2 separate regions of the Homo sapiens genome follow, and region 2 is linked to region 1. The links come from fine-mapping of genetic effects on gene expression. A gene starts in region 1. The other region holds a variant in brackets. All regions are shown on one strand. Distances are between the middles of the regions.

Region 1 (5,375 bases):
GCAGGAGAATTGCTTGAACCTGGGAGGTGGAGGTTACAGTGAGCTGAGATTATGCCACTGCATTCCAGCCTGGGTGGCACAGCGAGACTCTGTCTCAAAAACAAACAAACAGTCATTATTTAATGTCCAGCTCCATGAGGGCAGGGGCTGTGTCCATCTTGTTCACTGCTAATATCCCCCATGCCAAGCACAGTGCCTGATTTAGAGTAGCTACTCAAAGAATATCTTTAGGCCAGGCGCAGTGGCTCATGCATGTAATCCCAGCACTTTGGGAGGCCGAGGCGGGCGGATCACGAGGTCAGAAGTTCAAGACCAGCCTGACCAATATGGTGAAACCCTGTCTCTACTAAAAATACAGAAATTAGCTGGGTGTGGTGGTGCACGTCTGTAGTCCCAGCTACTCGGGAGGCTGAGGCAGGAGAATTGCTTGAACCTGGGAGGCGGAGGTTGCAATGAGCCAAGATCGCGCCACTGCACTCCAGCCTAGACAACAGAGCAAGACTCTGTCTCAAAAAAAAAAAAAAAGAATATCTTTAAATGGATTAATGAATGTGAATAAAAACCACTAACCCAGAATTTATTCTTGCATCTGTTTCGTGGGATTAGCCCAAATTCTAGCCATATCAATAAAAATTTACTAATCATTTGGCCTAACTGGCCTCCCGGCCTCGTGTTCCATCTCCCTTGTGAGCCATCCTATAGCCGCAACCACAGTAACACTAAAACAAACAAACAAACAAAAAAACCCAAGTCTGATTGTGTTCTCTTCCCAAACCTCTGCTATCTCCCCCGCTGCCTACAGAATACAGTCAACGCTCCTCAGCTTGGATTCAAGGCTTTGGCCCCAATCTCCCTTTTTAAACCTCTCTAGGCTTATTTATTAAGTGCTTATTATATGCCAAGCACTAGGCTAGTCACTGAGTTCATAAACCAGTTGGAGAGACAGGTACATTGACTAATTTTAATAAGGTGTGATCAGCACTATTACAGAGACTGTGAGAACACAGATAGTTTCAGGTAATGGATGATAAAATATTGTTTTTGACCTCTGCAGGTTCACGAGTTCTGTCTACAATAGTAATGTCCAATACAGTGGTCAGACACATTTCAAGTGCTCAATAGCCACCTGGGGCTAGTGTCTGTCACACTGGATAGCTGAGCACAGATACTTTTATCACCCATGGACGTGGGGGTTAACTATAGCTGCTTCCAAGACAGCAAGGGAGCCGGGCTCGGTGGCTCACACCTGTAATCCCAGCACTTTGGGAGGCCAAGGCAGGTGGATCACGAGGCCAGGCGATCGAGACCATCCTGGCTAGTATGGTGAAACCCCGTCTCTACTAAAAATACAAAAAAAAAAAAAAAAAATAGCCGGGTGTGGTGGCATGCGCCTGTAGTCTCAGCTACGCGGGAGGCTGAGGCAGGGGAATCGCTTGAACCGGGGAGGCGGAGGTTGCAGTGAGCTGAGATCGCGCCACTGCACTCTAGCCTGGGCAAGAGAGCGAGACTCCGTCTCAAAAACAAATAAATAAATAAATAACCAAGACAGCAAGGAACATTTCCCATATGTGAAGCCTGTGGTGCTAGCTACCAGTTCCCCAAACACAACCCCTCTCCCCAACACCTTGGCTCGGGTATATTTTGTAGTACAGGCTCCCAAGAGAAAGAATGCATGAAAGTACTTTGTAAACTATTAAGTGATACAGAAATGTGATATAATAAACAGGCTCAGAGGTCTTGCTTTCATCATGGCTTTGGTTACTTCGAGCAAATTATAGCTCTTTTCTCAAACTACTCCCACCCCTATAATTTATGCCAAAGTGTTCTGAAAAGAAACACAGGCAAAATGGTTATCCTAGGGCTAAAAATCCTGATTATACCTACCTTGAAGCTTTTAATCCAGGACCCTACTTCACCACCCGCCTGCTCTGTCACTTTCTCTACAAAGGAAGGACACGAAGTAAGACTTCCAAAAGAACAAAACGTTTATTTTTTAAATTTAAGAATTATGGGAAACCTAAGTAATGGGAATTGCATCCTCATCGGGGTCTTCTGGCAAGTCGGAAGCACCACCCTCTCCTGTAGCTCGATGCTTCTCTAGTTTAGCAATCAATTCTTTCGCTGGATTGAAGACGCCATTGGTCTGCTGGTCACAGACATAGCAGCGCGGGGTGGTGCGGAAATGCTGCAGTGCACAGCTCTCGCAGAAATAATGCCTGCACTTGGTGACAACTGGGTTTTGGAAGCTCTGGCGACAGATGAAACACTTGAATGGTATTTCCTCATCATCGCTTCCCACTTCATAGTTTTCATCCTCATAGACACCATAGCGACCCTCATCAAGCTCACGTTCGATCTGCCACCCATGCTTGTAATCTGAACGGTCATGGAGGAATTTGCAGCTGTCTCCGAAGCCGCAGAAGCCAGTCTCTTTGTAGTCCTTACAGATGTCGGGCTGGTAATCCCAGCGCACGGTGGCACGTAGATGCTCGGGCGCTCGGATGGGGCCCTTCCTCACCATCCCGGAAGAGGCATTGCCCATAGACGTATCCTTGGGCTTCATGTATTTCTGATAATTGTTGATTCCCCGATAGATCTTGTCATCCTCCTTGCCCCTCAGCTCCTCCTGGATCTTCTGGCTGCGCTCAAAGATGGCTTGTGCATCGCGCTCTTTCTCTGTGTCCAGCTCATAGACAGCTGTCGCTCCCATATCCTCTGGTCCCACGGGTTTCGCCGAACGGGTGGATTTATAAACCACGCCGAGACTCTCGGGCTCATTTTCCTCTTCCTCTTCGCTGCTCAAGTCGCCGTAAGCCGCCTTCTGTTTACCACTGTCACGGGTCTTCTGTATCATTGGATTGTGGGTCACCCGCTTCTTTTCCGGTCGAACCACAGTGCAGCCTTCGTCGCTACTGCTGCCGCTTTCTCCGGGCTCTGGGTCGCAGGCCGGGCGCTTTCTGCGTCCAGCAGCCCCTTTCCGCCCAGGCTTTTTGAAAAGGAAGGTGCACACCTGATCCACCGCCTTTCCTGGAGAAAGCTGCTCTGCCATTTTAGAGTCCTGAGCTCCGAAACAGCCGTGGCTGCCTGGGTTGCACTTGGCCCCTGCACGTCACTCCACGTTGCGCGCTCCGCCGGGAGTCGAAGCAAAAGACACTGACGGAAGAGGACTGCGAGAGCCCGAGCGCCCGTCTCTCTTGTGCCCTAGCAGATTCCGTCGCTTCTTCCGGAGCCGTACGTGGCACCGCCCCGCTCGCGGGCGGCCGCGGGGCTTGCTGGGAAGAGAGGCGAAGCCAGGTCACCTTTCAAGGACCCAGAAGTAGGGTTTTGGCCTAGGTAACGGGGCAGAGATGTGGTTCGAGATTCTCCCCGGACTCTCCGTCATGGGCGTGTGCTTGTTGATTCCAGGACTGGCTACTGCGTACATCCACAGGTTCACTAACGGGGGCAAGGTAAGCCGGCTTCGGCCCGGGGGCCGACTCCACGGGCTGATTTCCGAAAAGGGTGGTGGGCAGGGAGACCGTCAGCCTGCGAACCCTCTCTCCGAGGTCGGCCCTCTACTTGCTTCCGGTTGCCTAGAAGCCGAGGCTTGCGAAACGAAGCCCGATAGAAACTACATCCTGCTCTAGTGAAAAACAGCGTTTCTGGGTGTATCAGAGTGGGCCTTAGGGCAGAGTAGCGACGCGGGGGCCGGGAAGGTAGATTAGAAAAGGTGGCTCAAGCCTGAGAATCGCTCACTGCAACCTCCGCCTTCTGGGTTCAAGAGATTCTCCTGGTTGGGCGCGGTGGATCACGCCTGTAATCCCAGCACTTTGGGAGACCGAGGCGAGCGGATCACCTGAGGTCGGGAGTTCGATACCAGCCTGACCAACATGGAGAAACCCCGTCTCTCCTAAAAATACAAAATTAGCTGGGCGTGGTGGCGCATGCCTGTAATCCCAGCTACTCGGGAGGCTGAGGCAGGAGAATCACTTGAACCCAGGAGGCGGAGGTTGCGATGAGCCGAGATCGCGCCACTGCACTCCAGCCTGGGCAACAAGAGCGAAACTCCGTCTCAAAAAAAAATAAATAAAGAAAGAAATTTTCCTGCTTCAGCCTCCCGAGTAGCCGGGACCACGCCTGGCTTTTTTTTTTTTTTTGTAGAGGCGGGGTTTCATCATGTTGGCGAGGCTGGTCTCGAACTTCTGACCTCGGTTGATCCACCCGCCTTGATCTCCCAAAGTGCTGGGATTACAGGCGTGAGCCGCCGCGACCGGCCACCCTTGACTTTTTTATTCCCCACTTTCTCTTGCAAGCCTTTAGGAATTTACTGCGAGATCTTGTTTTTTTACATCAGGATTCATTTTCCCCTCTTCCTAGTCCTTCACATCATCTCAAGAGTACAGGATATAAATTTATTTACTTTTTGATTTTGTTATTGTTCTTCACGTGTGATCTACAGCTGTTGTTTCTTAGTGTCCCAAAAGACAACAACTAGATATTTCTTTTTTTTTTTTTTTAAAAAAAAAGGAAAAAAAATTCATGTTGGTTAAAATAGTGTAAAAAGTCACAGGTACCAACTTAATCCTAAAGTTTAGTGGTCTGATTTTATTTAGGAGATTCTGTTCTTTGTACTACTAATTTGCATTTTTATTTAAACGATGATTCCATTTCTCTGGAATGTCCCTTTTAAAAATTGTAGTATCTATCAATTGGGTCACTCACTTTTATAAACTGCAACAATAATTGTCTCTTATTTGAAGGAAAAAAGGGTTGCTCATTTTGGGTATCACTGGAGTCTGATGGAAAGAGATAGGCGCATCTCTGGAGTTGATCGTTACTATGTGTCAAAGGTAAGATGCCACTCTGATGCCAGCCTTTTGCCAGGGTTGAGGTGGGTTCTGGTAATGCCTTGCCAAGGGTCATACAGTGCTAATATATAACTAGCATTTTCTTATCTACTAGTGAGGTTGGCATCTTTTTACATATTTAATCTTTTATATTTCTTTTTTTTTTTTAGTTTTTCTTCTGTCATATATTTCTTATTCTGTGGATTGTTGCCTATATCCTTTGCCTGTTCCATTGTCTTTTTCTTTTTGAGCTATGGTTCTTTATATATTCTAGACTTTAATTTTTTTGTCTATTTTATATATGACATTTTTCCCAGTCTGCTGTTTGTCTTTTTTACTTTATGATGTTTTTCATCAGGTAGTTCTAAATTTTGATATTCAATGTATCATGTTTTGTTGTTCTGGATTCTAGGTTTTTATGTCTCCCGTACAAAGGCCTTTTCTATCTAAGATTATAAAAATACTTTCAAAAAATAAAATAGAGACAGTCTTGCTGTGTTGCCCAGGCTGGCCCTCAAACTCATAGGCTCAAGTGATCTTCTTGCCTCA
Region 2 (5,375 bases), 67 kb before region 1:
CTCCCTCCCTCTTCTCTCTCCCTCCTTTCCTTCCTTTTTTCCTTCCTTCCTTCTTTCATTCCTCCCTCCCTCCCTCTCTCCTTCCCTCTTTCCTTCCTCCTTCCCTCCCTCTCACTCTTTTCCTTGCTTCCTTTTCTTTCTCTTTTTCTTTTTCTTTCTCTCTCTTTCTCTTTCCCTCCCTCCCTCCTTCTCTTTCCCTCCCTCCCTCCTTCTTTCTTTTTTCTTTCTCCTTCCTTCTTTCCTTATTTCCTTTTCCTTCCTTCCTTCTTCTCTTTCCCTTCCTTTCTCCCTCCCTCCCTTTTCTTTCTCTTTTCTTTCCTTCCTTTCTCTTTCTCCTTCCTTCCTCCTCCTTTTTCTCTTTCTCCCTTTCTCTCCTTCCTTCCTTCTTTCCTTTTTTCCTTCCTTCCTTTCTTCCCTCCCTCCCTCCCTCCCTTTTCTTTCTTTCCCTTCCTCCCTCCCTCCCTTTCTTTCCTCTTTTCTTTCTTTTTCCTTCCTTCCTTCCTTTCCATTTTTTTCCTCCTTCCTTTCTTTCTTCTTGACAGAGTCTTGCTCTCTTGCCCAGGCTGGAGTGCACTGGTGTGATCTTGGCTCACTGCAACCTCTGCCTCCTGGGTTCAAGCAATTCTCCTGACACAGCCTCCTGAGTAGCTGGGACCACAGGCTTGTGCCAACACGCCTGGCTGACTTTTGTATTTTTAATATTTTTTCTTTTTTTTTTTTTTTGGTGTTTATTTTTTTGAGACAGAGTCTCAGTCTGTCACCCAGGCAGCAGTGCAGTGGCGCGATCTTGGCTCACTGCAACCTCCATCTCTCAGGTTCAAGCAATTCTCCTGCCTCAGCCTCCCAAGTAGCTTGGATTGCAGATGTGCACTACCACGCCCGGCTAATTTTTGTATTTTTAGTAGGGGTGGGGTTTCACCATGTTGGCCAAGCTGGTCTTGAAGTCCTGACCTCAAGTGATCCTCCCGCCTCGGCCTCCCGAAGTGCTGGCATTTCAAGCATGAGCCACCACGCCCAGCCGTATTTTTAGTGGCCAACCTTGCTGGCCACTCCTCCTCCTTGAAACACTTTTCTCTTGGATTAAGTAACACCGGAGTCTTCTGGTATTTCTCCTACTCTGGCTATTCTTTCTGTCTTTGTAGATACATTTCCTTACCTCTGTGTAATGTTAAGAGTTCTTTAAGGCTGGGCCCTAGGTCTGCTTCTGTTCCTACTTCACTCTCTCCCCATAAAGTGACAGAATCCATGGTCATGACTTCAATGGACCCCTAAAAATGGATGAATTCCAAATCCATACATCCATTTCCCACCTGCCATTCACCCCTCACTATAACATGGTTTCTATCTCTTTTAGGTCATCAGTTTCATTAGTTCACTAATGAAATCACGACTGCCAAATCCAATGAACACTTCCATTTCTTGTCTTCCTTAATCTCTCTGTGGCATGGGACAATGTCAGCCAATCTCCTTCTTGAAATTTTCCCTTCCCTTAATCCTCTCGCCCATCTGACAGTCATTCACTTTCAATCATTTTTGGTGGCTCTTGTACCTCCCTCTTGGGCTACTTGTTTCTAAAAGCTGAGGAAACAAAGTTATTTAGAAAGTAAAGGCAAAGTGATGCCATGTTAGGAAGGGCTGGCAGAATGAATGAAAATCAGGCAAAAGCTCAAGGATGTTGTCTAAACATTTTGTTCTTAAGGGACCAGAATAGTTGATGTGGTTTGGATATTTGTCCCCACCCAAATCTCATGGAAATATAATCCCCAGTGTTGTAGGTGGGGCCTGGTGGGGTGTTGGGGTTATGGGGCAGATCCCTCATGGCTTGGTGCTGTCCTCTCCATAGTGAGTTTTACAGAGCTGGTTGTTGTAAAGTGTGGCACCTCCTCCCCGCACTCACTCTCTTGCTCACTCTGTGATGTGGGATGTCTTCTGCTTCACTTTCCACCATGAGTAAAAGCTCCCTGAGGCTTTCCCAAAACTCGAGCAGATACCAGTGCCACACTTCCTGTACAGCCTGCAGAACTGGGAGCCAATTAAATCTCTTTTCTTATAAATTATCCAGTCTCAGGTATTTATTTATTTATTTATTTATTTATTTTTCTGAGGCAGAGTCTCATTCTGTTGCCCAGGCTGGAGTGCAGTGGTGTGATCTCGGCTCATTGCAGCCTCCACCTTCCTGGGTTCAAGTGATTCTCCTGCCTCAGCCTCCTGAGCAGCTGGGATTACAGGCACCTGCCACCATGCCTGGCTAATTTTTGTATTTTTAGTAGAGATGGGGTTTCATCATTTTGGCCAGGCTGGTCTCAAACTCCTGACCTCAAGTGATCCGCCCATCTCAGCCTTCCAAAGTGTTGGGATTACAGGCGGGAGCCACTGCACCTGGCCAGGTATTTTTTTTTTTTCTTTTTTTGAGATGGAGTCTCACTCTGTCACCCAGACTGGAGTACAGTGGCACAATCTCGGCTCACTGCAACCTCCACCTCCCTGGTTCAAGTGATTCTTCTGCCTCCGCCTTCTGAGTAGCTGGGGACTACAGGCGTGTGCCACCACGCCCAGCTAATTTTTTGTATTTTTAGTAGAGATGTGGTTTCACCATGTTGGCCAGGCTGGTCTCAAACTCCTAACCTCGTGATCCACCCACCTCAGCCTCCCAAAATGCTGGGATTACAGGCATATGCCACTGCCCCCAGCCCCGGCCAGGTATTTCTTTATAATAATGTAAGAACAGCCTGTATTAGTTCGTTTTCACACTGCTGATAAAGACATACCCGAGGCCAGGAGTGGTGGCTCATGCCTGTAATCCCAGCACTTTGGGAGGCCGAGGCAGTGGATCACCTGAGGTCGGGAGTTCAAGACCAGCCTGGCCAACATGGTGAATTCCCATCTCTACTAAAAATACGAAATTTAGCCAGGCACGGTGGCGGATGGCTGTAATCTCAGCTACTAGGGAGGCTGAGGCAGGAGAATTGCTTGAATCTGGGAGGTGGAGGTTTCAGTGAGTTGAGATCACGCCACTGCACTCCAGCCTGGGTGACAGAGTAAGACCTTGTCTCAAAAAAAAAAAAAAAAAAAAAAAAAGACATACCCGAAACTGGGATGGAAAAGAGGCTTTAATGGACTCACAGTTCCACATGGGTAGGGAGGCCCCACAATTATGGCAGAAGGCAAGGAGGAGCAAGTCATGTCTTACATGGATGGCAGCAGGACAAAAAGA[G/T]CTTGTGCCGGGGAACTCCTCTTTATGAAACCATCAGATCTTGTGAGACTTCTTCACTATCATGGGAACAGCACAGGAAAGACCTGCCCCATTATTCAATTACCTCTCACTGGGTCCCTCACACAACATGTAGGAATTCAAGATGAGATGTGGGTGGGGGCACAGCCAAAAAACATCAGGCCTAATATAGGAGTGAACCATGAACTGATTTTTCCCTGGTAGACAAAACAAAGGCATGCCAGTGAAAGCAGAAACTAATATCATTCATGCACTTTTGAAATTCTCCAGAGGTTAATTCAGTATCAAAAATTTAATTTCTCAAATATAACAGCTATTTAGTGAAGTTAATAAACACACTTAGCTTCATACTTGAATGTTGTTACTATTTATTGACATCAAAACAAAACAAGCTGAGACTAAAAGTTGCTATTTAACAGGAACAGACATTGATGCAGTTTCCTTCCTGGAGAGGGTACACACTCAGATCATGAGACCTAAGATAAAACACACACTGGATTGTCAAGAATCAAACAAGGACTACCAATGGGATCTAATTAAACTAAAGAGCTTCTGCACAGCAAAAGAAACTACCATCAGGGTGAACAGGCAACCTACAAAATGGGAGAAAATTTTCGCAACCTACTCATCTGACGAAGGGCTAATATCCAGAATCTACAATGACCTCAAATAAATTTACAAGAAAAAACAACCCCATCAAAAAGTGGGCTAAGGACATGAACAGACACTTCTCAAAAGAAGACATTTATGCAGCCAAAAAACACATGAAAAAATGCTCATCATCCCTGGCCATCAGAGAAATGCAAATCAAAACCACAATGAGATACCATCTCACACCAGTTAGAATGGCAATCATTAAAAAGTCAGGAAACAACAGGTGCTGGAGAGGATGTGGAGAAATAGGAACACTTTTACACTGTTGGTGGGACTGTAAACTAGTTCAACCATTGTGGAAGTCAGTGTGGCGATTCCTCAGGGATCTAGAACTAGAAATACCATTTGACCCAGCCATCCCATTACTGGGTATATACCCAAAGGACTATAAATCATGCTGCTATAAAGACACATGCACACGTATGTTTACTGCGGCATTATTCACAATAGCAAAGACTTGGAACCAACCCAAATGTCCAACAATGATAGACTGGATTAAGAAAATGTGGCACATATACACCATGGAATACTATGCAGCCATAAAAAATGATGAGTTCATGTCCTTTGTAGGGACATGGATGAAACTGGAAATCATCATTCTCAGTAAACTATTGCAAGAACAAAAAACCAAACACCGCATATTCTCACTCATAGGTGGGAATTGAACAATGAGATCACATGGACACAGGAAGGGGAATATCACACTCTGGGGACTGTGGTGGGGTTGGGGGAGGGGGGAGGGATAGCATTGGGAGATATACCTAATGCTAGATGACGAGTTAGTGGGTGCAGCACACCAGCATGGCACATGTATACATATGTAACTAACCTGCACAATGTGCACATGTACCCTAAAACTTAAAGTATAATAAAAAATAAAAAAAGCTGAAGATAAAAGCAGATGTTTGAAAATATTCTTCATGCTAAGCTCATGTAAGCAAACAAAAAACTAAAAGTAATCCTTAAACTTTAGGACATTAGATGCAGAAGTAACATGACTATTTAAATTTTGGCACCAACAAAAGTTTGTTCTATCCTTCACTGTACTTATACTACAAGGACATGCTTGTTGCTTCTACACTTCCCAAAGTCAACAGTTATCATCAACAATGCAATAAAACTAGATTGGAATGGACGGGCACGGTGGCTCATACCTGTAATCCCAGCACTTTGGAAGGCCGAAGCGGGGGGAATCACCTGAGGTCAGGAGTTCAAGACCAGCGTGGCCAACGTGGTGAAACCCCATGTCTACTAAAAATACAAAAATTAGCCAGGCAAGGTGGCGGGCACCTGTAATCCCAGCTACTCGGGAGGCTGAGGCAGGAGAATCAGTTGAACCCAGGAGGTGGAGGTTGCAGTGAACCGACATTGAGCCACTGTACTCCAGGCTGGGCAACAGGGTGAGACCCTGTCTAAAAAAAAAAAAAAAAAAAAAAAAGAAAAAAAAAAAAGAAAATTCAACTCGGGATGAACAACAGCTTTTGATTTT

Alleles and levels. Alleles are on the strand shown, and positions count from the first base shown. SD is a standard deviation of normalised expression in the study named.
For the expression in sigmoid colon of the gene that starts at base 3,169 in region 1, allele T in region 2 goes with a lower level than allele G (small effect, 0.26 SD a copy in GTEx).

What was found. PIP is the estimated chance that this variant, and not a neighbour inherited with it, causes the effect.
Region 2: its variant is fine-mapped to the expression of RNF113A in sigmoid colon (GTEx, PIP 0.92).

What each region holds. Positions count from the first base shown.
Region 1 is chrX:119,868,565-119,873,939 of GRCh38, forward strand. RNF113A (ring finger protein 113A) reads right to left here and starts at 3,169. Exons shown (of 1, transcript NM_006978.3): 1 at 1,911-3,169. The coding sequence starts at 3,049. The coding sequence ends at 2,018. It overlaps NDUFA1 (NADH:ubiquinone oxidoreductase subunit A1), which reads left to right and starts at 3,268. Exons shown (of 3, transcript NM_004541.4): 1 at 3,268-3,449; 2 at 4,740-4,829. The coding sequence starts at 3,348. RefSeq lists an enhancer at 2,882-3,591.
Region 2 is chrX:119,801,728-119,807,102 of GRCh38, forward strand. It overlaps LOC107985694 (a long non-coding RNA gene), which reads left to right. Exons shown (of 3, transcript XR_001755949.2): 3 at 3,652-5,375. It also overlaps a transcript of UPF3B not described here. Among named protein-coding and RNA genes, the nearest start is that of RPL39, 13 kb to the left of the region's middle. The variant G/T (reference allele first, on the strand shown) is at 3,215.